Homo sapiens: one gene and its partners. The protein of the gene in region 3 interacts with the protein of the main gene of each other region in a pairwise test. Each region holds a gene or a part of one and is shown on either strand. Other genes may lie near its edges.

Region 1 (7,799 bases), about 120 Mb from region 3:
AGCGCCTCGTGCGCCCGCCACAGCTGGGAGTTCTGGGCCTGTGCCTCCAGGTGCTCCGCAGCCTGGGCGTGCAGCTGCTGCTCTAACTGGAGGGTGGAAGGATGGAGACCGGCGAGGAACGCCCCCTCTTCCCCGGGGTGCTGCGCGTGCCCCAGGCTCCCGACAACCCGGGGACGCTAAGGCACAGGGGGAGAGTGCACGGGTGACCGTGGGGACAGGGCAGGGGCCGGGTGCTCACCTCCCGCTGCCGCAGGCCCGCGCGTTCCAGGTCCTGCTCGCGGCTCTGCAGCTCCAGCTCCAGACGGCTTCTCCGCTCCCCGCGGGCGAAGTTCTGGGACGCACGGAGGACCACTGAGCCTCCGCCGGCCGCTCGGCCATGCAAAAGAGGTACACGGAGGGCCAGGGGCTGGGAGTGGGCCCGGGCGGAGCGGGGTCGGGTGGAGAAGACCGGACGGGGGTGATACGTGAGGCCCAGTGGGATCTCCTCGGGCTGAGGGCAGCCTGGACCCGCGGAGGTGGGGCCGTCGGGGAGGGATTAATTCAGAGAAGGCGGAGCCAGGGAGGCCAGCGAGGTGGGATTGGGCCTGGCGGGAGGGGCGGGGCCCGAGGCCCACCTGACTCGGCGGGCGCCGGCTCTGCTCCCGAAGCTGCTCCGTCTCCTCGTACAGAGCGCGCACCTCCCTCTCGTGCTCGCTCTCGCGCCTTCGGGGGACCGGGCGACCCCGGATGAGAACTTGCCAGCGCTACAGCCCCCTGGCACCGCCTCTGCTGCTGCCCTGAGGCCCTCCATTGGCCCCCATACCCCACCCCGGCCCTCACCTCCGCAGCGCCTGCTCCAGGCCGTCGCGCTCCCGGGCCGCCTCCTCCAGGCAGGCCGACGCGCGTATCAGAACATCCTCGAAAGAGCCCAGCAGCTCGGGGCGCTCGCGCTGCAGCCTGGCCCAGAGCGTCCTCACAGCCCGCTGCCTGGAGGGCGGGCGGGAACTGAGGCTGGAGCTGGCAGAAGCGGGAAGCAGGCTTCCCTCCGCCAGCAGCAAACCCTTAGGAGACTTCTTCGCCCCTGGGCAGGACAGGAGCACTTGCTGCGTGCAGGGCATCCCTCCCGTGAGCGCTTTCGCCCCTGCCCGGCGTGCGTGGTCGGTGAGGTGTGTGTACCCTGGGCAGTGCCGGTATGTGGCCCCGCGCCCGGCGCTGCCCCTCCTCCCTGCAGCCCTGGCTGCTGCCTCATGAAATGCAAATTCTGCGGGAAATCATGCCGGGTCCCTCCCAGGGAATCGCAGCTGACGCTAGGCTGGGCCTGACCCGGCCTAGAGACCCTGTGCAGAACCAGCACTCGGGTGACAAGGGCAGACAGCATGCAGGCAGAGAAACAGCAGAGCGGGCAGTGGGAGCGGGGCCAGCGCCGACTCACTTGCCCAGGACCGGGGCCACCCCCAGCTGCTCCAGCACAGTGTGGAATCGCTCCTCCTCTTCCTCCTCCTCATCCAGAGAGCCCGCCGTGCCCTGCACGTCGAGCCCGCCCGACTCAAAGGTCTCCTCGGGAGTCCTGCAGGGGTTCGCTCCCTGGGCTGACGCCACCCCCACAAACATCCCTGCGGGCATGGAGCGAGCGATTACCAGGGCTGTGGGTCGCCACCGTGGCTGTGTCCCCGTTCACCCTCCCAACGAGTATCCTGCCCTCTCTCAGGGCCCAGTTTCCTGTTTTCCTTCCTTATTCTGGTCCTATTGGCCTGGAAACAAGAGGTGACAGGCCAGCTCCCAGCCCTACCGGAGCTTAGCACAGGAGAGGAGCTGGGGGCCAGGAAGGTCAGCTCCACACACTCCACCGCAGCTAGGAGCCCCCAGGCGCGAGTGCGTGCAGACAAAGCACGGGCCCTGGAGGGAGGAGGACGAGAGGCACCGGCAGCCCTCAGGGCGCCACAAGTGCCAGGCCTCCTGATCAGGCCTCCAGCTCTGGGCAGTGGGGGATAGGCAGGCCACAGGCTCACCCAGGCCCAGGCAGAACTCCCTGGCGGTGAGGAAGCCAGTGTGAGCCCGGTCCAGACTTTCAAACACAGCCTCCAGCTGCTCTGGCGTGAGGGGCAGGTCGCTCTGGAGACCCTGGTCGGGGAAGGAGAGCAGAGATGAGCCGCTGCGGTCAACCCAGGGCCGAAGCAGTCTCTTGGGGTGGGGGACTCACCTGCAGGTCGTGCTTGGTGATGAAGCCCTTAGCCTCCTTGTCACACAGCAGAAACAGCTCCTCAGCCTGCTCCAGTATTGCAGCCCGCGGCCCTGCAGAGCCCCCCTCGAGTTCCCCCTCCTCCTCCTGGGCCTCATCAGCCCCAGGCTTTCCAGGGCTGGCCATGAGAGCAGGGGGCCTCAGCCTGGCCTTCAGGTGCTGTGAAGCCAAGGGAGGGTCAGAAGAAATTCAGGAGGGGAGCGGATGGGGTGCAAGTGTGTCTGAAGGCTCAGCCGAGGGCCCTCCCTGCAGCAGGTGGGAAGGTGGGCGGAAGGCAAGGTGGGACCAGGGGGCTGGGGGTGGAAAATGCTGCAGGCTTGGGGTGTCACTGGGGTGGTTGATGTAGGCTCAGGGCCTGTGGGTACTGCCCCAGTGGGTCTGGCATCTCAGGAGGCTGGAACCCAGGAGGGGCTGCCAACTTCAGGAGAGGAGGAGCTGGAGGTGATGGCAATCTCAGGGGCCAGTGGAGAAGACCTGGTGATAAGGAAGGTGGGGTCCTGAAAGCTGAGAGGAGCAGGCTTGGGGTCAGTGAGGGAGGAGCCCCTCACACTCTGCAACTGGAGATCTGATCCCAAGTGAGGGCTCAGCCAGTCCTGACCAAGTCCTTAGCCCCTGGCCTGGGCCTGTGTGGCCCAGCCTCATGACAGCTGGCAGGCAGGGCAGACTTCTCCCTCCTGCCCACCGGCCCCTCCCTCCCCACAACTGAGCCCACAGAGTGCAGGGGCAAGGTCCCAGCCTGCAGAGCCCTTCGCCTCTGACGCCCCACTCAGGAACACTTCCAGATTCGAGACCTAACACCCTTGCCCCACAACACTGAGGCCCTTCCCCGTTTCAGAACTCCCTGGGGCCTCCCTTCCCACCTCCTTGCAGGGACGCCCCGCCCCCTAACCAGAGCCACCTGTCCTTCACACAATGTCCTGATCCCGGATTTCCCAAAGCTGCTCCCCACCAACACCCGCCTTCCCCCACCGGGGAGCTGGGATCCTCTCCCCTCACTCTCCACCCAGCGTCCTTCCATGTTCCTTAGCCCGGGCGACCTCCAAAGAGGGCAAGTCTGGGCGGGTGAGAGAAGGGGACACGAGAGGCCAGGGCCATTGCCTCCAGGCCACGTTGTTGTCTCGCCCGCCCTCCGGCTTGCCGGCTAGACCTGAGGTCCACCCCAGCCGGAAGCCGCGCGGCAGCAGGGCCCCAGGGAGGTGGGAGGATGGGCTGGTGGGGTGGGGCGGCCAGCCTCCTGTGCTCCCCGAAACTCTGGGGGACAACCCCGCCCTTACCCCTGCCGCCTTGCGCCCCGAGGGGGTAACCGGAGTTCCCGACCGAGACGCTCAGGTTTGGCGCGGGCCACGGCGGCCCGGAGGGGGTGCCGGGCGGGCGGCAGTGGAGGGGCCTCAGCGGCGGGACCAGCGGTCGCCTACCCGCGAGTTGCGCCGCCGCACCTGCCGCGCGCCCGGGCCGCTCCTCCCGGAAACACTGGGCGCGCCCCGCCCCAGCTGGGACCCGGACGGGACGTAGAGGGCACTGGGCCCCGAGCGACCCCTGCCGCTTCGCAGGCACCGAGACCCCCGCTTGGGCCGGCCCCGGGAGGAGCCACTCTGCGCCGCTGTCGCCTGTCCCCGCCTCTCTGCGCTGCCCCGGCGGCCCGATCCCTGGAGGCTCGAGCGAGCAGTGAAGCAACGATATGCCCCAGAGACCCAGGGACCCCCCGGAGCAGGGACAAGGCTGCGGGGGGCGGGCGCAGACACCAGCGCCTGGGAGGGGCCCCTCCTGTCCGGGGGGAGCCCGACTTAAGGCGCCAAAAAGTGTGTGTAGGAAAAAGCCGGGCAGGAAACAGACCAAATACTTTCAGCGGTTATCTCTAGGGGTGGGGAGCCTTTACTTTCTTCTCTATACTTTCCCGGTTTTTAAACAATAAACATGTAGGCCGGGCGCCTGTAATCCCAGCACTTTGGGGGGCTGAGACAGGGGCAGATCACCTGAGGTCAGGAGTTCGAGACCAGCCTGCCCAACATGGCGAAACCCCGTCTCTACTAAAAATACAAAAAATTAGCCAGGTGTGGTGGTGGGCGCCTGTAATCCCAGCACTTTGGGAGGCTGAGCCAGGAGAATCACTTGAACTCGGGAGGCAGAGTTTGCAGTGAGCCGAGATTGTGCCATTGCACTGGGCAACAAGAACGAAACTCCATCTCAAAACAAAACAATGAACGTGTAATGCTAGAAAATGTTTAACTTAGCAGTATTCAGTGTATATGTATGGGTGAACGAGCTGGGGACTCAGGCAGGTCCCACCTCAGTAGCCCCTCCTGGCTCTCCTTCTGGGGCCCAGCCCTGACTGGGGCTCCCCTTGGGGGAGGATTGGAAGGAGGAGCTGCTTGAGGCCCGAGTGAAACCCTCCTGTGGGGGGAGAAAATTCCACCCCAGACCGAGGAGCCCTCCCCAGCCCCAGCCCCAGCCTGGCCCCTGCACCCACCTGAAGGGCTGGAATCACTGTCCCGCCCGGCAACCCTGGGGGGTACAAGGCCTCTGCTTTTCAAGGAAGGGGCCTGGGATCCAGCGTGCGACCCAGCTGAACCACAAAAGGCTGGGCTTATAGGACAGGACCTTGAGACCAAGGGGGGTGGCCTCTGGCACAGGCACATCAGGGACCTGCCTGGCCGGCTCGCCCAGTCCCAGATCCCAGAACCAACCGTTATTGTTGGCAGGGGGCTGCCACCACAGCCACCCCACGCCTTCTGGGAGGAGCAGGTGGGGGCTGGCTCCAGCACCCTCAGGCCATGGGGCCTTTTTGGTTGCCAAGGAGGGCTGGCCTTCTCCCCTCATGGCCTCCCTGCCATGAAGAGGATGCCCTCAGGAAACCACTTCCCCAGCACAGGGCTGAGTCCCCTTCAGCTAGGACCTCACCTGCCTCCATATCCCAGCCCTGCCCTGTGTACTGGCAGGAGGCTGGGCAGGGGAACAAGAAGGTATGTGCACCAGGCCAGAGAGGCTTGTGAGGGTGGGGGGACAGAGAACTTTGGGCCAAACGCCCAAGTGGAGCAGGGGCCCAGCTTTCCCAGGTCCCCTGTGCTTGGTTTCAGGAACCTCAGCCCCCACAGCTGGCCAAGCCCCAAAACAGTCACACACCCCACTGTGTCACCGTGTGAGGGGAGGGGCAGGCGACACCTTTTGCAAACATTTTCGTTTTTATTTACCAAGAATCTTGGTCCCAAATATTTCCATTGGCCCTCAGAAGGCTGTGGCCAAGGGTCAGCCAGGAGGCTGCTGGGCAAAATTGGGGGGGGTGTGGATGCATCCTAGACAGGGGGGTCGGCAGGAATGCAGTACGTTCATATGTGCCTGTAGGGGGGTGTTCCCAGGCCAGCCTGGCAGGTTCCAAATGCCAGGCCCAGGAGTGCGACGCTGGGAGACCTGGCCTGCAGCTGTGGAGAGGCTGGTCAGCCAAGGTAGGGCCAGACCCTGGCCACCAGGCTCTCACTGCAAGTAAGCAGGCGGTCACATACACACAAAGTGGGCAGAGGCTGGGCTGCAGCATTTATTACATGTGCTTTGGCGAAAATAAATAATTCTTCACACACATATTTCAGCAGGCCATGAAAAACGGGGAGGGAAGGGCAGCTGCAAAGTTCTCAGGAGTAAAGGGGCGGGGGAGGTGCTCGGGCAGCACAGGGGAGGGAAGATTAAGGCACAGGTGCGCGGGGCCTCAGCGGCCCAGGGGAGGGGTGTGGAAACCTCCCCTCTCAGTGCATGCAGCTGGTGAGTGGCTGGCGAGGGGGCCCACGGCAAAGACCCCTCTTGGCAACTGTGAGTCCCCTCATCTCACTGCGCAGTGGTAATGGAGGCGTCTCAGGCAGGGTTCCTCGAGAGGGTCGGGGTCTCACAGCCCCAGGGCCCCGATCACGGGCCGGGCCTCGGGAGCAGGGGTGCTCAGCAAGGGGGCAGGCCCGGCCAGCTGGTGCTGCGGGGATGCTGGGTCCGCGGGGGCGGGAGCCGGGTCGGCGGGTGCGCGCATGCGCAGAGCTTCGGGCGGGAAGGCCACGTTGGTGCAGAAGAGGCCGAGCAGCAGCTGGCGCTGGCACTCCTCCCACTTGGCCAGCGCGTCCCCCAGCGAGAGGTTGTTGCGCATCCAGCCGGGCAGTGCCTCTCTGTAGGCGGCGCAGGACAGCGGCACGGACGGCAGCGACTGGACGCGGCGCAGCTCCACCTGCTCCGGCAGCCTGCGGGGCAGGGATGCGGCAGGGAGGGCTTCAGCTCCCGGCGCTAGCACCGCGGGCCCCGGGTGGACGCGCGGTCGGCGGCTCACCTGGAGGGCAGGTGCCTGCCCAGCTTCCTCTTGGCGCGCATCACCAGGTACTGGCAGATGCTGCCCGTCTGCTCCTTCATCCACCGGATGTCCTCGGGAACGTCGGGCAGCCACTCCAGCAAGCTGGGGACAGGGCGAGCGGCGCGTTCAGGGACTTGGCCAGACCCACATGCCCACCCGCCGGGCCCTGTCTGTGCCCTGACTTGGCACTGCTCACCCCACCCCACCTTCCCTGGTAACCATCACTCGCGGATGATCCCAAAGTCCGTCCCCTGGGCCCCTCTCCCGACCCCCCAGCCCTCACACCGGATGGTGAAGGACAGAGCGCTCTCCAGCGGCAGCGTGTAGGGCACCATCATGGCCGTGGCCAGACGCACAGGCAGCATGTTGGAGAGGGTGGTCAGCAGGTCCGTGGGCTCCACGCAGGCCTCCAGCAGGGCTGCGGGTGGGCGGGAGGTCGGCGGCCAGTGGAGGCAGCGGGGCCCAGGACCCGCTCGGCTTCCCTCCCCTGCTCACCGTCCTCTCCTCTCTCTCTTTCCCTCCTGCCTCCCCTCCTCCCCTCCCGTCCCCCAGGTGCGCACCCTCATTGAGCCGGGCGGGCAGGTGCTCCAGGATGTGATCTTCTCCGGGCAGCTGCGAGTAATCCTCCGCTTGGGCGCTCTCCACTGCCTGGTCCTTGTCCTCTGGGCCGTGGGGGCGGGCGGGGGGCAACGCCAGCAAGGGGTTGGGCCGGTTCAGGAGGCCTGGGGTTGGGGAGAGAAGGGATTCTCAGTTCATCAGCGCGGCCGCGGCCCGCAGGGGGTAGCAGAGCCGAGCCCACCCCGCCCTCTCCCGCCCGGGTCCGCGCACCGTTCCGCTGCAGAAAGCGCAGGCCATCCCGGTATCCCTGCTTGCACATCTCTCGCAGCACCTGCAGTGAGGAGGGTTAAATGGAGCGGAGGGAGCCAGGGATGCCCGTTCTGCCCCTGGAATCCCTGGCACCCCCAACAGCCACCTCCCTTCACTACCCGCAGCTCCCAACCCCAAAACCTATCCTAGATCCAGAACAAGATCAAAGCTGTACAGGGAGGTTGGACAGAAAGCCGGGCGCAGTGGCTTACACCTGTAACCCCAGCACTTTGGGAGGCTGAGGCAGGCGGATGACGAGGTCAGGAGATCAAGACCATCCTGGCTAACACGGTGAAACCCCGTCTCTACTAAAAATACAAAAAATTAGCCAGGCGTGGTGGTGGGCACCTGTAGTCCCAGCTACTGGGGAGGCTGAGGCAGGAGAATGGCAGGAAC
Region 2 (7,058 bases), about 15 Mb from region 3:
TGACTATCATAACTGAAACCATCAGTTATGTGGATTTTTTTCTTTTTTTTTTTTGCTACATTTTTAGAAAGAGGCAAATTACAAAAGGTATTGTGGATTTATTAAAAAAATAACTTTGGGGTTATTTACTTGGTTAGTATGAAATCAGTACCATCTCTTCTGTTTTCTGGGCATTTAGGCCATACAATTAGAATTGATTTCTGAGTGATAGCCTGGAGACTCTGCAGGAATCTCACTTATCAAAAAAAATTTAATTATATTCTTATATTGTACTTACTAAGGGAGAAAAGTAAGGGAGTATACTTCACAAAGAATTCCTCAAGAAAAGTTTTGATAACCTCAGTTACTTAGATTTACATACCTCAATAATTCAGATAACCCATTTCTCAACAGACTACATGATAGGGATTTACGGTATAACAACAGTTTATGTTTAGGGGTGTGTGTGTGTGTGTGTGTGTGTGTAATATATTTTATATATATATATATTTCCAATTACCTCCAAGTTCATTATACAGTCAGAAGAGGTTTTCATTTAAAATTCTGAGTTGGGACAATTATACATATGGTATTTGAATCACAAATCATGCTGGGTAAAATGAAAGAATCAAATGATGTATACACAGAAGTACTAAACACAGGAGGCTGTGTTTACCTTTACAGATTCCAGGCTGTTTTGCAACAGATATAAGGGGTGGATGGGTGGCTGGACTATGGAATCCAAGGGATCCCTGCCAACCCTGACATCCTGTGACCAATGAAATGATGACAGCTCATTGGCCAGACCTTGAGGCTTTTTGCTTTCCAGTGTCTGTTCTCAGTAAAAGGTAAAATGCTGAAAAACAAATAAATGTAAAGTGCCACCCAAAGTAAAAAAATTACAGTGAGATAATAAAACACATCACATAGAATTTAAATATGTTCAGTATGAAGGCAATGGTATAGAAAAAAAGATGTTAGTTTCTTTTCATGTGAACTCACAATTTTTGCTTTATGAAAAACAAAAGGAAGCTTATTCTACAAAAATAATTTCATTTGCTATTAAAAAAAACAAAAGCCCCAGTATAATCCTCCTCGCTATGGTTTTAAGAACAAATTGTACAAAGCTATTTGGGGAAAAAAGATAAAGGAAAACTGAATTAAAGTCTTACTGGTTTCTCAATCTGTTCTTTAGCAGAGTAGTTTGCATGTGACATCTCACATGATAATTGTTTCCAAACTCAGGGGAAAGCACTAGTAATCTCTGATAAACTTGTCAGGGTGCAAAGAACCATAACATAATATTATTGAGTCAAAGGGTCATTCATTCATCTGTAAAAATGGTGAAAATTACAATGCTAGATTTTTTTTCTTAAAATTAAAAAATAATCCTTATATGATGAAACACTGTCTTTCCAGTTGAAAGCTCTAAGTCAGGTCATCTTCCTTCTCACCTTTGTGTCTCCACTCTGGCGCACCCTGCATGGCTGACTCCTTGTCATCTTTCTAAACCCAGTTCTTTCAGGATGTCTTCTCTCCCCAACATCCCTCACCATCTTCTTCATCTCTTCTTCAGATATTATTAATTTCTCCTGAATACCACTACTGTGGTATTTTTTACCCTTCAATTTGTGTGTGTGCATGTGCTCTAATTTAGACTGTGAGCTCCTTTAAGAATACAGCCTATATTTAACATTATTCACGTCTGTTTCCCTAGAACTTAGCACATGCTTCACATACACTGGGCGTTCAGTCAACATTTCTAATATAAGCAAATATGAGTATAGAAACATTATGATAATTAGAGCAGTGAGCGAGACATAGTCTTCCATCTGAGACAAATACATGAGAAACAGGAGCCAAAAAATAATTATTTAGGCTGATGTGACTTCCTTCTCTCCATAATGGAATAATGGTGTAACAGTGCAGGCCTTCTAACAACCCTTCAAAGAAGGGGGTGAAACTAGGCAGAGGATATCGACTATCTTGGTTCATAAGTAGGTACACCTGGGAGTACCAAGCCAGGGAAACATGAGCTCTGCACAGTGCAAAACACTTTTTTTTTTTTTTTGAGATGGAGTCTCGCTCTGTCACCCAGGCTGGAGTGCACTGGCGCAATCTCGGCTTACTGCAAGCTCCACCTCCAAGGTTCATGCCATTCTCCTGCCTCAGCCTCCCGAGTAGCTGGGACTACAGGCGCCCACCACAACGCCTGGCTAATTTTTTGTATTTTTAGTAGAGACAGGGTTTCACCATGTTAGCCAGGATGGTCTCGATCTCCTGACCTCTTGATCCGCCCACCCTGGCCTCCCAAACTGCTGGGATTACAGGCATGAGCCACCGCGCCAGGCAGCAAAACACTTTATTAAACATAGAGAAAAATAACTGGCATGCAAGGATTTCTACCCAATCATCATTTGCCTTGAAGGACTTTTCACCATGACAGCCTTGTATGTGTGTGTGTGTAAGTGGGGGTGGGGGAGAGTAGGGAGAAGGTGGCTGTGCCCAAATGTCAGAGAGAGGCATATTGGCCTCTAGGGTGGCATCCTTAATGAATTTTCCTACAGAACTGATGTCAAATGGGTCACCTCAAAGGTTCATCTCACTCATTCATTCATTCCCCTTCAAGGCAATGGCCCATCTACCCTATATCCCATTTTAGAGACCCTCTGTGTTATCCACACATTCCACTTTTTTACACTCCCCACCTCCAAGGGGTATGCACACTCTGTCCATTTTACTCAAGAAACATGTTTATTCTCTACTGCTTTGGCTTTGGGCCTCCTGACTTTCCACACTCTAGCAACAGCTCCCTCTTTGAACCACTGGAAAAGCCTCCTGACTGGCCCTCCTGCCACATTATGTCCTCCATGTGTTGCAAGAAGCCTCTTCCTTAAGTCAATTTAAAAAAAAAAATCACAAACACCTGCTTCAAATCTTTTCCCTTTCCTTTCCTTCCTTACTTCTTTTTCTTTTTTTTTTTTTTTTTTTTTGGAGGAGGAATTCTTGCTAATTGATAATATTTAATATTTAAACTCCGTAGATTCACATATGACTTCATCAATTGGCTCAACTAATTTTTTTCCAGCTTCATATCCTGGTATTCAAAGTCATGTACAATTTTTTTATTGCACAAAATGTCTCATCTTTCTCTAGAAATAACAGCCCTTGCCATAAATTCCTGCTTTTGTAACATGAAACTGCTTTCCTTTGGAGTGAGACCACTTTGCACCTGGAAGATGCTCATCCTTCAACATCCAGCTTGTCTCCTCCTTAGGAAAATATCCTCTGTTCTGTTGGTGATACTAAAGGCAGTACCCTGAACATGTCTTTGTAAAAGATTTTGCCTTTAGTATTGTGATTACCCATTCACCTGTCTATCCCTTTCCAGAAATGTGAGCTCCTCAAGGGCAGGCTCCAAATCTGACTTTCCTACTATGCACATAGAATGGTACTTGCCATGTAAGAAACAAATCCTTACTGTTTGGGGAAAAAACAAAAGTACAAAGAATACAACTCTAAAATGAACAAAACAAATGATAATATGCTGTTTAGAAAGTGTTGAAAAACTAGGCATGGTGGCTCACACCTGTAATTCCAGCACTTTGGGAGGCCGAAGTGTGGGGGATTGCTTGAGCCCAGGAGTTGGAGGCCAGCCCGGACAACACAGTGAGACCCCAAATCTATTAAAAAAAAATACAACAATTAGCCGGGCATGGTAGACTGTGCCTGTAGTTCCAGCTTTTCAGGAGGCTGAGAGAGGAGGACTGCTTGAGCCTACGAGGTCGAGGCTACAGTGAGCTGTGATTATGCCACTGTACTCCAGCCTGGGTGACAGGATAAGATCCTGTCTCAAAAAAAAATGTGTTGAAATCATTTCTTTCATATCATGTGTTAAATAGGCTTTGAAGGGCTGGCCTTGAAACCTGACAGCTTTGAGCCATCGTGTATCCATGGGAGTAGGCATTCTAGGTTCCAAACAGCACACTTAGAAATGGACTTTGGAACACAACGTGCTACCTCAAGGCTCCACCTGGCCACACAGCAGGCACTGAGGCTGGGAGACAGCCCCCAGACAGATGAGTGTCCGCGCCTCTCTGAGAGGTGAATGAGCCCGGACGGTCCCTACCTACCAAGTCCTGAGGAGCAGCGGCACCAACGACGCAGGCCCGCCCCAGCCCGCCAGTGAGCCGCCCATGCCCTCTGCTAGCCCGGCCCGCCCGGGCCCCCGCCATGCTGATCACCGTGTACTGCGTGCGGAGGGACCTCTCCGAGGTCACCTTCTCTCTCCAGGTCAGCCCCGACTTTGAGCTCCGAAACTTCAAGGTCCTCTGCGAAGCGGAGTCCAGAGTCCCCGTCGAAGAGATCCAGATCATCCACATGGAGCGACTCCTCATCGAGGACCACTGTTCCCTGGGCTCCTACGGCCTCAAAGATGGCGATATCGTGGTTTTACTGCAGAAGGACAATGTGGGACCTCGGGCTCCAGGGCGTGCCCCGAACCAGCCTCGTGTAGACTTCAGTGGCATTGCGGTGCCTGGGACGTCCAGCTCCCGTCCACAGCACCCTGGACAGCAGCAGCAGCGCACACCCGCTGCCCAGCGGTCACAGGGCTTGGCGTCAGGAGAGAAGGTGGCCGGCCTGCAAGGTCTGGGCAGCCCCGCCCTGATCCGCAGCATGCTGCTCTCCAACCCCCACGATCTGTCCCTGCTCAAGGAACGCAACCCTCCCTTGGCGGAAGCCCTGCTCAGCGGAAGCCTTGAGACCTTTTCTCAGGTGCTGATGGAGCAGCAAAGGGAAAAGGCCTTGAGAGAGCAAGAGAGGCTTCGTCTCTACACAGCCGACCCACTGGATCGGGAAGCTCAGGCCAAAATAGAAGAGGAAATCCGGCAGCAAAACATTGAAGAAAACATGAATATAGCGATAGAAGAGGCCCCCGAGAGTTTTGGACAAGTGACGATGCTCTACATTAACTGCAAAGTGAATGGGCATCCTTTGAAGGCTTTTGTTGACTCGGGCGCCCAGATGACCATTATGAGCCAGGCTTGTGCCGAGCGATGTAACATCATGAGGCTGGTGGACCGACGGTGGGCTGGGGTTGCTAAAGGAGTGGGCACACAGAGAATTATTGGCCGTGTTCATCTAGCTCAGATTCAAATTGAAGGTGATTTCTTACAGTGCTCTTTCTCCATACTTGAGGATCAACCCATGGATATGCTTCTAGGCCTAGATATGCTCCGGAGACATCAATGTTCCATCGATTTGAAGAAAAATGTGCTGGTCATCGGCACCACTGGCACGCAGACTTATTTTCTTCCTGAGGGAGAGTTGCCCTTATGCTCTAGGATGGTAAGTGGGCAAGATGAGTCTTCGGACAAGGAAATTACACATTCAGTCATGGATTCAGGACGAAAAGAGCATTAAAGCACGTTATAAATATGTTACCACCTTGAGGGAGCCTCAGGTCCCCGGCAATTATAAGTTAAGAGCTTACTGGCAATGTAATCATTAAAAAACATCAGTAACAACTAAACCTGGCCTTGGGACTACGTTCTCAGATGGGTAACTAACGTCAATCCTGATTCCTTGGTCTTGGTCCCTCTTCCATTTCCCTTGTCCAGAGATCACTGAAAGGCATCCTGGGAAGGCTCTGGAGGCTCCAGCTGATTTCCAGATAATCCATGAAAAAGAAAACCAGCTTCTTCCTTTAGAGACACTATCCTATCAGATTACAGGTGGCTTATCCAAATCATTGCTATTTTGCAGAATTCCCTGGAAAAATGCTATGGCTGCAGACCTTACAAGGCATCCACATAAAACTATTTCACATCAGCACTAATAATTCTTTCTACTGAGAGAAATATGCCCATTTTCACAGGTTTTGTTTTCTTTGGGAAGGGTATTAGAAATGGTAGGTCAGTTACACTATGATGTTAACTAATACTTATACATGTCTGTTTGGGGCAGCATAAAGACCAATTTCCTCATATTTACACCTTCCCTTCCCCTGGATCCCCTGCAGTCACCCTGCAATCCACAGCTAAAGACTATTTTTGCCATATTTGAGAAAGTGGATTTATCTCCAAGGATGCTACATTAATTTTCTATTTCTCCTGCATTCAAAGAAACTCTGGCTATAAAACAAAGGCAATAAATTAGATTTTTTAAAAAAGAAATTATGGTACTTCTTGGGAGTCAAGTTGTACAGTGGTGGGAATGAGAGGTGGGGACAGGCAGTGGTCCAGGTTCTCTAATAGTCATTGCAACTAGATCATCTCTCTCTCTTTTTCAAAGTAAAAATCTGCTTTATACATTAAGCTGCTGCTACATCAGTATTGTTTGAACAAAGGTTTTCACTGTTAAAATAACATTTGAAAACTTTTGAATGAGAAGATCTCTAAGGCCTCATTCAGAATTATCCATTCTGACAATGTTAGTGTTTATTACAACTGACAGTGGGTAATGGAAGATCCTAGACTTAATTACAACCCATGGCTAAAGCACCTGAGAGAAAAGTTTCAGCTTCCTGAGGCCATCAGATGCAGGGGAAATGTTTCAGGACAATAATTTATCAAAACTAGTATTAAAACAGCGGATTCAAAATCAAGATGTGTATGTTTTGATTACACTTAATTACTTAGACAAATTAGTTCACCTACTTTACAACTGAGATTCCTCACCTAATAATTTTTTTTTTCCTGGGAGGGGTCACTTTTCAAGCACTAAAACCTCATTATCTTAAAGGATCTGGGATATCCTTTAAGTTATTCTATTTTCCCGACAAGATATAAAGCCACATAAAGCATTCCCAAAGGATACAGAAAAAAATAACTCTCCCTTATAATCTCCATATACTTTTTGTTTTGCTTCTTGGTAATACTAATCAACCTTTCTAAAGAGAGTCACCTCTTCCTTTCTAGCCACCATCAGTTCACCTCCCATTTTTCTTCTCTATAGGTGTTCCCATGCTCACATTTCCCAGTCTGGTCTACATTTGCACAAAGTTTTATACCCAGTAGAACTACTAAAAATGATCAAATGAACAGATTTCTTTCCTACTTTTGTTTGTAATTAAGAAC
Region 3 (3,009 bases):
GATGACAAGGGGCCCATAGGTGAGGGGAACAGTCGGAAGAAACGGACCTTGTAGGCTTTCCTTTTGTTGTCTGCCCTTCTGCATTGGTTTGACTATCCTTGACTCACGTCAATGCCAGATCTGAAGCGGTTCTCAGAATCCAGGATCCGAACCAGCAAGCTCACAACATTTGTGAACTTCCCCCTAAGAGACCTGGACTTAAGAGAATTTGCCTCAGAAAACACCAGTGAGTATCTTTGAGTAGGCAGGGCAGAATGAAGACGCAGGTGTGCAAGGCCGGAGGGAGGGCAGGAGGAAGGGGAGCTGCCAGCACCAGCTACTGAGAGACCCAGAAGGAGAGGTTGGAGGGGGGAAGTCGGGGCAGGGGGGCCTCGGGGGCTTGACGGCTGCCTCCTCCTCAGACCATGCTGTTTACAACCTGTACGCTGTGTCCAATCACTCCGGAACCACCATGGGTGGCCACTATACAGCCTACTGTCGCAGTCCAGGGACAGGAGAATGGCACACTTTCAACGACTCCAGGTGAGAGCCAGGGCAGGGCCGGAGCCCCTGGCTGTAGCCACCCACTCTCCCCCCACTCCTCCACCCTCCCCCCAAACCCACCCCCCTCCCACCCCCCGCACGGCTTACACCGAGAATGGATGGCAAAGTTTAAGGCCACGAAGCCGCTGCCCGTGGGGAGGCTCCCTGAAAGGCAGGCCGGCCGGCCTCGGGGGCACAGAAAGAAGCCGGCGGGGGGTCTCCCGGTCCTGCCCGCTCCGGGCTGACTCCCCGCTCTCTCCGCAGCGTCACTCCCATGTCCTCCAGCCAAGTGCGCACCAGCGACGCCTACCTGCTCTTCTACGAACTGGCCAGCCCGCCCTCCCGAATGTAGCGCCAGGAGCCACGTCCCTTCTCCCTTCCCCGTGGTGGCCCCGCTCCCTAAATTTTTTAAAAAGACAAAAACAAAACAACAACAACAACACACAAACCTGACAAGAGAAAAACAAACCTGAAGCTGCCGAGCAGGAGTGGATGCAGCCTGATCAGGGTCTGGAGCAAGGAGCCGGGCTTTCCTGAGCTGTGGCCCGGCAGGGAAGATCGCCTGGACGTGGAGCCAGCATCGCCCCGTGCCCTCGGCGTTTGCATTTGTAAACTTGTGGTCTTCCTATGTGTCAGAAACAACTGTGTCTTGGGGGGGAAGACCCTCGCTGCGCCGCTTCCCGCCGCAGCGCCCGCGCCTCCGAGGGGACAGCGCCCTCTGGAGCTCGCTGGGAGCATCACCGCCTGGACGCCCGCGCCGCGGAGGAGCCGGCGCCCATCTCCACCCGCACGGCTCGCCGGTCCAGAGCCATGAGCCAAGAGCCCTCTTCACGCTGCTAACTCCAGGGGACAGACGAAGGGACATCTTTGGAAAACGCTGGTTTTGGTTTTTAAAAAGCCCAACTTTTTTTTTTTAATTTCCATAACTAAAGTGTTCAGACTGGAGTGCTCTCCTTCAGGCCTCTTCATAGCTGGGACGTTGCACTGGTCCTTTTATTGCTTTTCCAAGTACAACTTTCTAATGCTAGCCCTCCGTGGTGCTAGGTGGGCGTTGGCCAGGCCCCAAGCACAGCCACAGTAGACCTGGGATCTAAAACAAGTTTCTGTTTTGGGGGTTTGGGTTTTTTTTTTTTTTTTTTAATGTTTTGAATGGAATTTAGTTGCCTCCAAGAATTGTGCCTTATAGCATTTGGGGACCAGGGGGTAACTGCCCCTCCTGAAATATCCCTCAGCCTCTTCCCTTTTCCCCAGTGCTCTGTTCAAACCCGCCTGGGAAAGGGATCCTGCCCTTAGCCCTGGCTCGTTGTGCATTGCAGTGAGGCAAAGAAGAAAGCAGGTAGATTCCTTCCGACAGGGCATCAAGTTCTTCCCGCCCACGTCCTCTAGCCCACCCCTGGTCTGCTCCCCAGCTGTTTGAAGGATAGCACAAGCCCCTCGTCCCTAGAGCTTCTCTCCCTTTTATTTATTCTCTTAACATCCCTTTCCCCCTGGCCTTCCTGCCCCCGCCCCCTTCTCAGAGCCTCCTAGACAATAGGCCCTTTGGACCGAGTTTCTCAGGGATGCCCAGGCCACCCCTCAGCTCTTCTTAGCGCTGGTCTCCAGTCCTGCCCTGGGAGCTGGAGCCTGGGTATTTGGGGACATCTTGCCTCAGTTGTATGGTTCTTTCCTGTGGGCTCAATTTTGCCCTACATAGTTGGATAAAACTCTGTGCTGTCCTGGAGAGTAAAGCTGTTCACCCACACAGCTGGGCCCGGCTTGTGCCCCGTGGAGCCTGGCACATTCCAGGCTCCTAGGAGGAGGCATCAGAGAAAGACACCCTGAGTTTTACTGGCCTGACACCCTTCTCCAGAGAAGACCTGTGAACCTGAGCCCAAGGGCAAGTGTACACTTGTTTACTGTGTAAGCAAGAGTAGAAGAATGTCTAATGTACAGTGGAACCTTGTACAGAATAAATAATAGCTTTGAGAAATCAGTTGGCAGATGTTGGAATCTTGATTTGGGAGTGTTTGAATCTAGGAAGGGCTCCTAGTATATTAGGGGCCATCTATTTCATTGTTTCAACCAGTTTGTAAATTCCAAGTTTCTGGAAAAAGTTACCCACTTTTTAGTTTGAACATTTAAGTTTAATTTTTTAAAAACTGAAACAATACATATTTTGGACACTATATTCTTCATCTGGATTCACCAATTGTTTACAAACACATTTAAATATACAGCCATCCCCCAGTATACACAGGGAGATTGGTTCCAAGATACACACATACCAAAATCTGCACCATATTCAAGTCCCAAGGTCACCCCTGCAGAACCTGCGTATATGAAAATCAGCCTTCTATATATGTGGGTTTTGCATCTTACAAATGCAGTATTTTCTATCCTTATTTGGTTGAAAAAATCCACGTGAAAGTGGACCCACACAGTTCAAGCCCGCATTGTTCAAAGGTCAACTGTACTTTATTCTGTCTGCCGAAACATTTTCAGGTGAGG
Region 4 (7,033 bases), on a different chromosome or scaffold from region 3:
TTGCGAGTATTTTCCACGTGTTGCCTTTTCACTCTGTTGATAGTGTCCTTTGTTATACAAAAGTTTTTAATTTTGATAAAGTCTGACTTACCTATTTTTTCTTTTATTGCCTGTGCTTTTGGTGTTATATCCAAGAAGTCATTGCCAAATTTAATGTCATGACATTTTCTCCTCTATTTTCTTCTGAGAGTTTTATAGTTTTAGCTCTCACATTTAGGTCTTTGGGGTTTTTTGTTTTTTGTTTTGACACAAGATCTTGCTGTATTGCCCAGGCTGCAGTGTGGTGGTATAGTCATGGCTCACTGTGGCCTTGGCCTCCTGGGCTCAAGTGATCTGCCCGCCTCAGCCTCCCTAGTAGCTGGGACCACAGGCGTGTGCCACTGTGCCCAGCTAATTTTGGTTACTTGTTGTAGAGACAGGGTTTCCCTATGTTGCCCAGGCTGGTCTTGAACTCCTGGGCTCGAGCACTCCTCCTACCTTGGCCTCCCAAAGTGCTGGGATTACACCACGCCTGGCCCTCTTTGATCTATTTTGAGTTAATTTTTGTATATGGTATAAGGTAAGGATCCAACTCCATTCTTTTGCCTGTGGATATCCAGTTTTCTCAGCACCATTTGTTGAAAAGATTATCCTTTCCCACATTAAATGATCTTGGCAACCTTGTCAAAAATCATTTAACCATATATGCGAGGGTTTATTTCTGGACTCTGTATTCCATTCCATTGCTCTTTATGTCTGTTTTAATGTCAGTACCACACTGCTTTGATTGCTGTAGCTTTTTTTTTTTTAATTTTTTTTTTATTTGAGATGGAGTCTTGCTCTGCTGCCCAGGCGGGAGTGCAGTGGTGCAATCTCAGCTCACTGCGACCTCTGCCTCTCGGGTTCAAGCGATTCTCCTGCCTCAGCCTCCTGAGTAGCTGGGATTACAGGCGCCTGCCATGAGGCCCGGCTAATTTTTGTATTTTTAGTAGAGATGGGGTTTCGTCACGTTGGCCAGGGTGGCCTCAAACTTCTGACCTCAGGTGATCCGCCTGCCTCGGCCTCCCAAAGTGCTGGGATTACAGGCATGAGCCACCGCGCCTGGCCAATTGCTGTAGCTTTTTAGTGAGTTTTGAAATCAGGAAGTGTGAGACCTTCAGTCTTTCAAGACTGTTTTAGCTATGTGGTGTCCCTTGATATGGATTTTTCTATTTCTTTAGAAAATGTCATTGGGATTTTGTTAGGCATTGCATTGAATCTGTAGATCACTTTGGGTAGTACTGACACCTTATCAATATTAAATCTTCTAATCCATGAACATGGAATGTCTTTCCATTTATTGGTGTCATCTTTAATTTCTTTCACCAATATCTTGTAGTTTTTAGCATACAATATTTAACCTTTGTTAAGTTTATTCCTCGGTACTTTATTCTTTTTGATGCTATTGTAAATGGAATTATTTTCTTAATTTCCTTTTTGGATTGTTTATTGTTAGTTGTAGAAATGTAACCGATTTTTGTGTGTTCATTTTGTATCCTTCAACTTTGCTGAATTTATTAGTTCTAATTGCCCTGCTTTTAAAATCAAATTAATTCCAACATTCAAATCTTAATTAAATTCACATAAAACTCTAGACTTCCTTTTTGTCATAAAATATTGGAAGATGTGGCACCTCTGAGCTGACATTCCCACATGGCACCCACCGCTTGAGGTCTAGTGGCAGCTCCTGCCTTTGGTGGAGGTGACCATCCTTTAGCACGCTCCAGCCCCACCACCCTTTCTGTCTCTGCTTACCAACCTCATCCACAAGTTCTGCTCTGGCTGGCCCCTCATGCATTCAGCATTCTTCCTACAGGTACTTACTGAACACCTACTGTGTACCAGGCACTGTTCCAGGCACTGGGAGTACAGTGCTGAACACAACAGACAAAAATCCCTGCCTTCGCATATATCATCTCGTTTAATCCTCGAGACAGCTTCCATGAGGTAGCCTCATTATACAAATAAGGAAACTAAGAGACATAGAGAACTTAAGAGACTTGTCCAAGGTTACCCAGCAGGTAAGGGGATGTCTGGATTAGAACCTGGGCAGCCTGGCTTTAGAATTCGAATTGTCAGCTGCTATTACTGCCCATCAGTGGCGGAAGGACCCAGAGGTGAAGACTTGGCAACAGAGGCAGGGTGGCGTGGACAGGGGACAGATAGGCCTGGCCGGTGGTCATACAGCCAGGATCAGGCCTTCTGTGGGCTCCACAGGGTGTGCTCCCAGGGCCGCCCCGCTGGCCTCTGGGCTGAGTTTCCTTGAGGTTGTCTGGATCCCAGACCCTCTGGCCTTCCCAGCTCAGCAGCTTCAGCCTGGGAGAGCCCGCTTTTCCTCAGCAGACAGCTGATGATCGTTGACTGGGCTTGGTGGGAGGTAAGGAGGTAACCAGCAGGTTTTCTTTCTGTGATGGTAAGAGGCCGCCTTGGAAGCAGACAGCTGAGAAAACACAAAGACCTGGGCTGGCTGGCCCCACCCTTGGTCGAGCCGCTTCTGCCTGTGAAGTGTAAATGCAGGTGGTGTCAAGCCGGCAGACAGGCCCAGCTCCCTCTTCCCCTTGAGCAGGCAGGGTGACGCCCCCTGCAGCAGGCCCGTGATTCAGTTGCTCTGGCTGATGAGGAGCCTGGGCCCGGGAGGAGTGTCGCACAGCCCCAGCCTGGTCCGTCCTCAGCCCTGGATTGACGTCCATGCTGTCCTGGGACCGTTTCAGCCGCCTAGTGGGGAGTCTGCTTTCTCCTCCGTCCTGTGTCTTGGGCTCAGGCATGTGCCTGCTGCCCCTTTGTGGCCACAAGTATGTATCGGGCCCAGGGTGGCACTCGGGACCCTCCCCTGTTGGGCTTAGAGACATGGACGGCCCTTGCTGGCTGGAAGCTGCGGTGAGTGTGTGAAGGGCCCTCAGTCTTCCCTGAGGAAGGCCCTGCCTGCTCTTGGCTCTCACTGCTCCCAGGCCATCTTCCATCCGCTTTCCCCAGGTGCCTCCGTTTCTCTCTGACTTCTTGCCTGTTTTCCCTAACTCTGAGAGATTGCCTGCCTTCAAGTGCAGGAGAAAGCAGACATCTTCCCTACAAGCCCGAGACCTAGCCCCCAGTAGAGCTGGCCAACCACCTGCCACGGAGCAGGCCACTGGTGCCTTGGCCAGAGTGCTCGTGGTGCCAGTCTGCTGCGTCTCAGTCACATTCCCCCTGCTTTGCTGCCCTCAAGAAGCCAGAGATGACCTAGTGTCTGACACCTCTGAACAAAGGGGCCTTTAGAGCCCCTTCCTCAACTCCCTCACCATCCCCCATGCTCCCCAGCCTGCCCTGGTTGCGGTTGCGGCCACTTCCTTTTGGGTGCCCCTCTGAGATTCTGGACAGAGCCCAGGAGCCCCCAGGTTCCCATTGTGATGCAAGGACAGAACAGAACCCTGGGCCGCAGGCAGGTGGCTGGTGGGTATCCCGCCTCCCACCCCCAGCAAACACTGGCAAACCCCACTCTCCCTGCATCAGGGTCTGAGTGCCTGGCAGGGGCGGCAGTGGAGATGATCAAGGTTAGTGCGCCCAGCCCCATGCTGAGGCAGCAGCCTTTCTGGGGAGGGAGGGGGCGTGGAAGGAGACTTCAACCTTTTGAAGAGGAAGTCAGTTCACTTATGTCAGGGTAGGGAGAGTAGGAATTACGTATTCTTTGAGACTGAAAAATTACTGGCCGGGCGCAGGGGCTCACAACGGTAATCCCAGCACTTTGGGAGGCTGAGGCGGGAAGACTGCTTGAGGCCAGGAATTCAAGGCCAGCTTGGGCAAAATGGCAAGACCCTTCTATACATTAAAAAAAAAAAAAAAATTAGCCGGGCGTGATGGTATGTGCTTGTAGTCCCAGCTACTCGGGAGGCTGAGATGGGAGGATGGCTTGAGTCCAGGAGGTCTAGGCTGCAGTGAGCCTAGATCGAGGCACTGCACTCCAGCCTGGGTGACAGAGTGAGACCCTGTCTCAAAAAGAAAAAAAAAAATTACTGAAAAGCATAAAGATTTTGTCAACTATAATTCCACAGCCCAGAGACCCCCACTTTTTAGTGCTGTACACTTAATGGTTTTTCAGATGTTTCTTGGACTTAATATGTTGATGAGCCTTTCCCCATGACATTTAAAACTCCTGATAAACATGAATGTAATGATGACAGAATAGTCTATGTACTATATATACACATTGTAATTCACCTGCCCACTCCTCTAAGGGTGCTTATTCAGGGTATTCTCAATTTTAGGACGAAAGCAGAAAGGCTGCCTCATGCAAACTGTCCCTACTCCCACCCAGGGGCCAAAGGACTTGAGCCGTCCTCTCATCAGGCACTGAGCGGGCAGAGAAGTGGCACAAGCTCTGCCTCCCTGCCTGGCCCGTGGCCCAGCGTGTTGCTAGGAAGGAATGTGTTTGTGCAGGTGGCGGCAGAGCTGACCTCCAGGGGTCTGGCCCTTGGGTCACCTGCTTGTCCCCCAGGAGGCCTGGCTGGGCCCCCAGCCTTTCACCTGGGTCTTGCATCTTGGAATCCCCCTGCCCCACCAAGAGCAGGCAGTGCCAGCTCCCTGGCCTTTTCCTCAGAGGTGGGGGTGGATCCCTTGGTCCACTTCCTCCCTGACCACTCAGAGCTGGCCTAGCTGCTGTGAGTCAGCCGTTCTCTCCCACCCTGGGAGACAGGGACCTCCGAGGCCGAACACTACCTTGTTTGATGACACAGACTTGTTTGATGACATCTCAACCATGTAAAGTAGGGAGATTTTACACACACCCCCAAAATCCAAATGTCCGGCCTGTCTTAACTATGGCTGATGCATGCTGCTGAGTGCTAAGGGGGCGGACTCTAAGCCTCTATTTTTATTTTATTTTTTTTAGACAGCCTCGCTCTGTCACCCTGGGGTACAGTGATGCTATCATAGCTTACTGCAGCTTCAAACTCCTGGGCTCAGGTGATCTCCCACCTAACCCCCCGGATTACAGCTGGGATTATAAGCGTGCACTGGTGCACTCGGCTGAGTTTTGAAACTTTTTGTAGAGATGGGGTCTTGCTGTGTTGCTCAGGCTGGCCTAGGCCTCTCTTGAAAGATGAGAATTTTGGCGATGCTGGGTGTGCGTTCTCACCTCCTGTCGTCCGAGGAGAGTACGTGGTGGCCGCCTTCTTAAAGGGTTCTTGGGAGCCAAGCCCTGCACAGCCCCTCACCTGCCTTACCTGGCTGTCCCCTGTAATCAGTGGACGTTGTTGCCTATCATTTAGTAATGAGAACCCAGCTGTGTAAACCTCCTAAACCACCACACAGGAATCTGGCTCTTAGCGCACCTTTCCCGAGGTGGGGGTTGCTCACCACAGGACGTTCTGCAAGAAAAGTACTAAACATGCCCTGACGGAAGCTGGAGCCAAAGTCTGTGTCTGTGAATTGTTTCCTGAGAGAGGTTTCTGGGGGTGGGCTGATGTGAGACCAGGGTCTAGGGCCTTGGGAGGGGATGGGTGGCTGGAGGACAGCGCCGGGGAAGGGTTGCTCCCCTGGGATCTGCCCTCATGGGACTGGCACCATGATGGTGTCCCCTCTTCTGGGGTCCGGATAAGCTAGGTAACCGTGGCTTCCTCATGGGGTGCACACCCCCTTCCCCCTATAAGAGCCTTGGCTGCCACAGCTTTCCTGCAAGGCAGATTGGGAGCAGGGGTGGACACAGGTTCTGAGTGTGCCCTGACCACTGGCAGACCCATCTCCACAGGCTGACTTGCCAGAGACCACCCCAAGTGGAAAATTCTGGGGGCTGGGCCAGGGTGGATCTAGGGCTCGGAGGACCTGGAGTATGTACCATCTGGGGGCCCTTTTAAAGAGAGAGAACATAAAATTACATAGACACAGGCAGGTACAGGACTTTGGGAGGGGCTCGTGTAGTGAGGGGTCCTGAGGGTGGGCTGCCGTTGGGTGGGCCCAGGGGGCATCGGGGTGGCCTTGGTTGCACTTGCCCTCTGGGCTTTCCTGAAGAGCTGGGGTTGGCTCTGTCCTGTGGAGGGAGAGGGTGCGGGAGGCTGTCAGCACCAGCCCAGGTTTCTCTCACCTGAAGTCCCAGGTGTGATGGGATGCTTGAACATAGGGGAACCTAAGGCCACAGCCTTAGAAGAAGCCACAGCCACATCAGTCATCCCTGGTGCTGGGCAGGAGGCCTGGGTGTAGGCTGGAGCTGAGGACTGAGGCTCACCTTGCTCCTGACTCTGTGCCCACAGGTAGAACACCTGAAGGAGAAGCTCATTAGCCAGGCCCAGGAAGTGAGCCGACTGCGATCTGAGCTGGTGAGGCCACAAGGCTGTCCTGGGGTAGCGCAGGGCCTGGCCTGCCTTGTGCAGATGGGCCCTGCCAGGGGCAGGGGTGCGACCCTCTCTCTCCTGAGCCCGCATATCCCACCCTGTCTCAGAAACACACCGAGAGCCTTATCCCCACCTCCTAGTACCCTCAGAGGCCTTGTGGCTCCAGGGGGTGGGAGGTTCCTTCTCTGTTGCTGACATTAAACGGGAGTGTGAACCCTGGTATAAATATGTCTCTCCTTGTGACTTTCACACTCAGAATAGGGTGGGGGCAGCAGGGAGAGCAGGCTCTGGGTCACCACCCTTCTCAACTCTGCCCTCCACTGTCTTTCTCTTGGTTTCTCTCTTGAGCTTGTTCCCTCCTCTCTTGCCCTTGCCTTTTTCTTTTTCTTTTTCTCCTTCCCTCTGCCTTTCTCCACACCTCTCCTCTCTTCCCTGCCCTTGTGCCATCTCCGCGGGCCTCTCTTCTTTCCCCCGTCATCTGCCCTCGCCACATGCGCCCCCTCGGCCCTGGCTCTCTGCAGGGGGGCACCGACTTGGAGAAGCACCGGGACCTGCTGATGGTGGAGAATGAGCGACTGAGGCAGGAGATGCGGCGCTGTGAGGCCGAGCTGCAAGAGCTGCGCACAAAGCCAGCAGGTCCCTGCCCAGGTTGTGAGCACAGCCAGGTGAGCAGAATGGCCGTGGTCCCCATGCTGGTCCTGGAGGGCCACCCCAGC

What was found.
Region 1: the proteins of USP2 (region 3) and CRACR2B interact in binary tests that used the Homo sapiens proteins (3 or more experiments, as listed by UniProt).
Region 2: the proteins of USP2 (region 3) and DDI1 interact in binary tests that used the Homo sapiens proteins (3 or more experiments, as listed by UniProt).
Region 4: the proteins of USP2 (region 3) and KIFC3 interact in binary tests that used the Homo sapiens proteins (3 or more experiments, as listed by UniProt).

Annotation. Positions count from the first base shown.
Region 1 is NC_000011.10:823,153-830,951, reverse strand, and holds the start of CRACR2B (EF-hand calcium-binding domain-containing protein 4A), read right to left. Parts: upstream 3,034-7,799; 5' UTR 2,345-3,033; coding exon 2,180-2,344; intron 2,101-2,179; coding exon 1,989-2,100; coding exon of another isoform or gene 1,769-1,988; intron 1,593-1,768; coding exon 1,412-1,592; intron 985-1,411; coding exon of another isoform or gene 967-984; coding exon 820-966; intron 703-819; coding exon 615-702; coding exon of another isoform or gene 332-614; coding exon 239-331; intron 87-238; coding exon 1-86. Other genes in the region: PNPLA2 (patatin-like phospholipase domain-containing protein 2), read right to left, coding at 6,090-6,429, 6,516-6,638, 6,822-6,954, 7,097-7,258, 7,365-7,425. UniProt on the Homo sapiens protein: Plays a role in store-operated Ca(2+) entry (SOCE).
Region 2 is NC_000011.10:104,032,611-104,039,668, forward strand, and holds DDI1 (protein DDI1 homolog 1), read left to right. Parts: upstream 1-4,029; 5' UTR 4,030-4,212; coding exon 4,213-5,403; 3' UTR 5,404-6,586; downstream 6,587-7,058. UniProt on the Homo sapiens protein: Probable aspartic protease. Seems to act as a proteasomal shuttle which links the proteasome and replication fork proteins like RTF2. Required, with DDI2, for cellular survival following replication stress.
Region 3 is NC_000011.10:119,354,700-119,357,708, reverse strand, and holds the end of USP2 (ubiquitin carboxyl-terminal hydrolase 2), read left to right. Parts: intron 1-118; coding exon 119-226; intron 227-401; coding exon 402-522; intron 523-786; coding exon 787-874; 3' UTR 875-2,494; downstream 2,495-3,009. UniProt on the Homo sapiens protein: Hydrolase that deubiquitinates polyubiquitinated target proteins such as MDM2, MDM4 and CCND1. Isoform 1 and isoform 4 possess both ubiquitin-specific peptidase and isopeptidase activities.
Region 4 is NC_000016.10:57,771,492-57,778,524, reverse strand, and holds part of KIFC3 (kinesin-like protein KIFC3), read left to right. Parts: intron 1-1,270; exon of another isoform or gene 1,271-2,039; intron 2,040-3,446; exon of another isoform or gene 3,447-3,536; coding exon of another isoform or gene 3,537-3,545; intron 3,546-6,172; exon of another isoform or gene 6,173-6,236; coding exon 6,237-6,302; intron 6,303-6,838; coding exon 6,839-6,982; intron 6,983-7,033. UniProt on the Homo sapiens protein: Minus-end microtubule-dependent motor protein. Involved in apically targeted transport. Required for zonula adherens maintenance.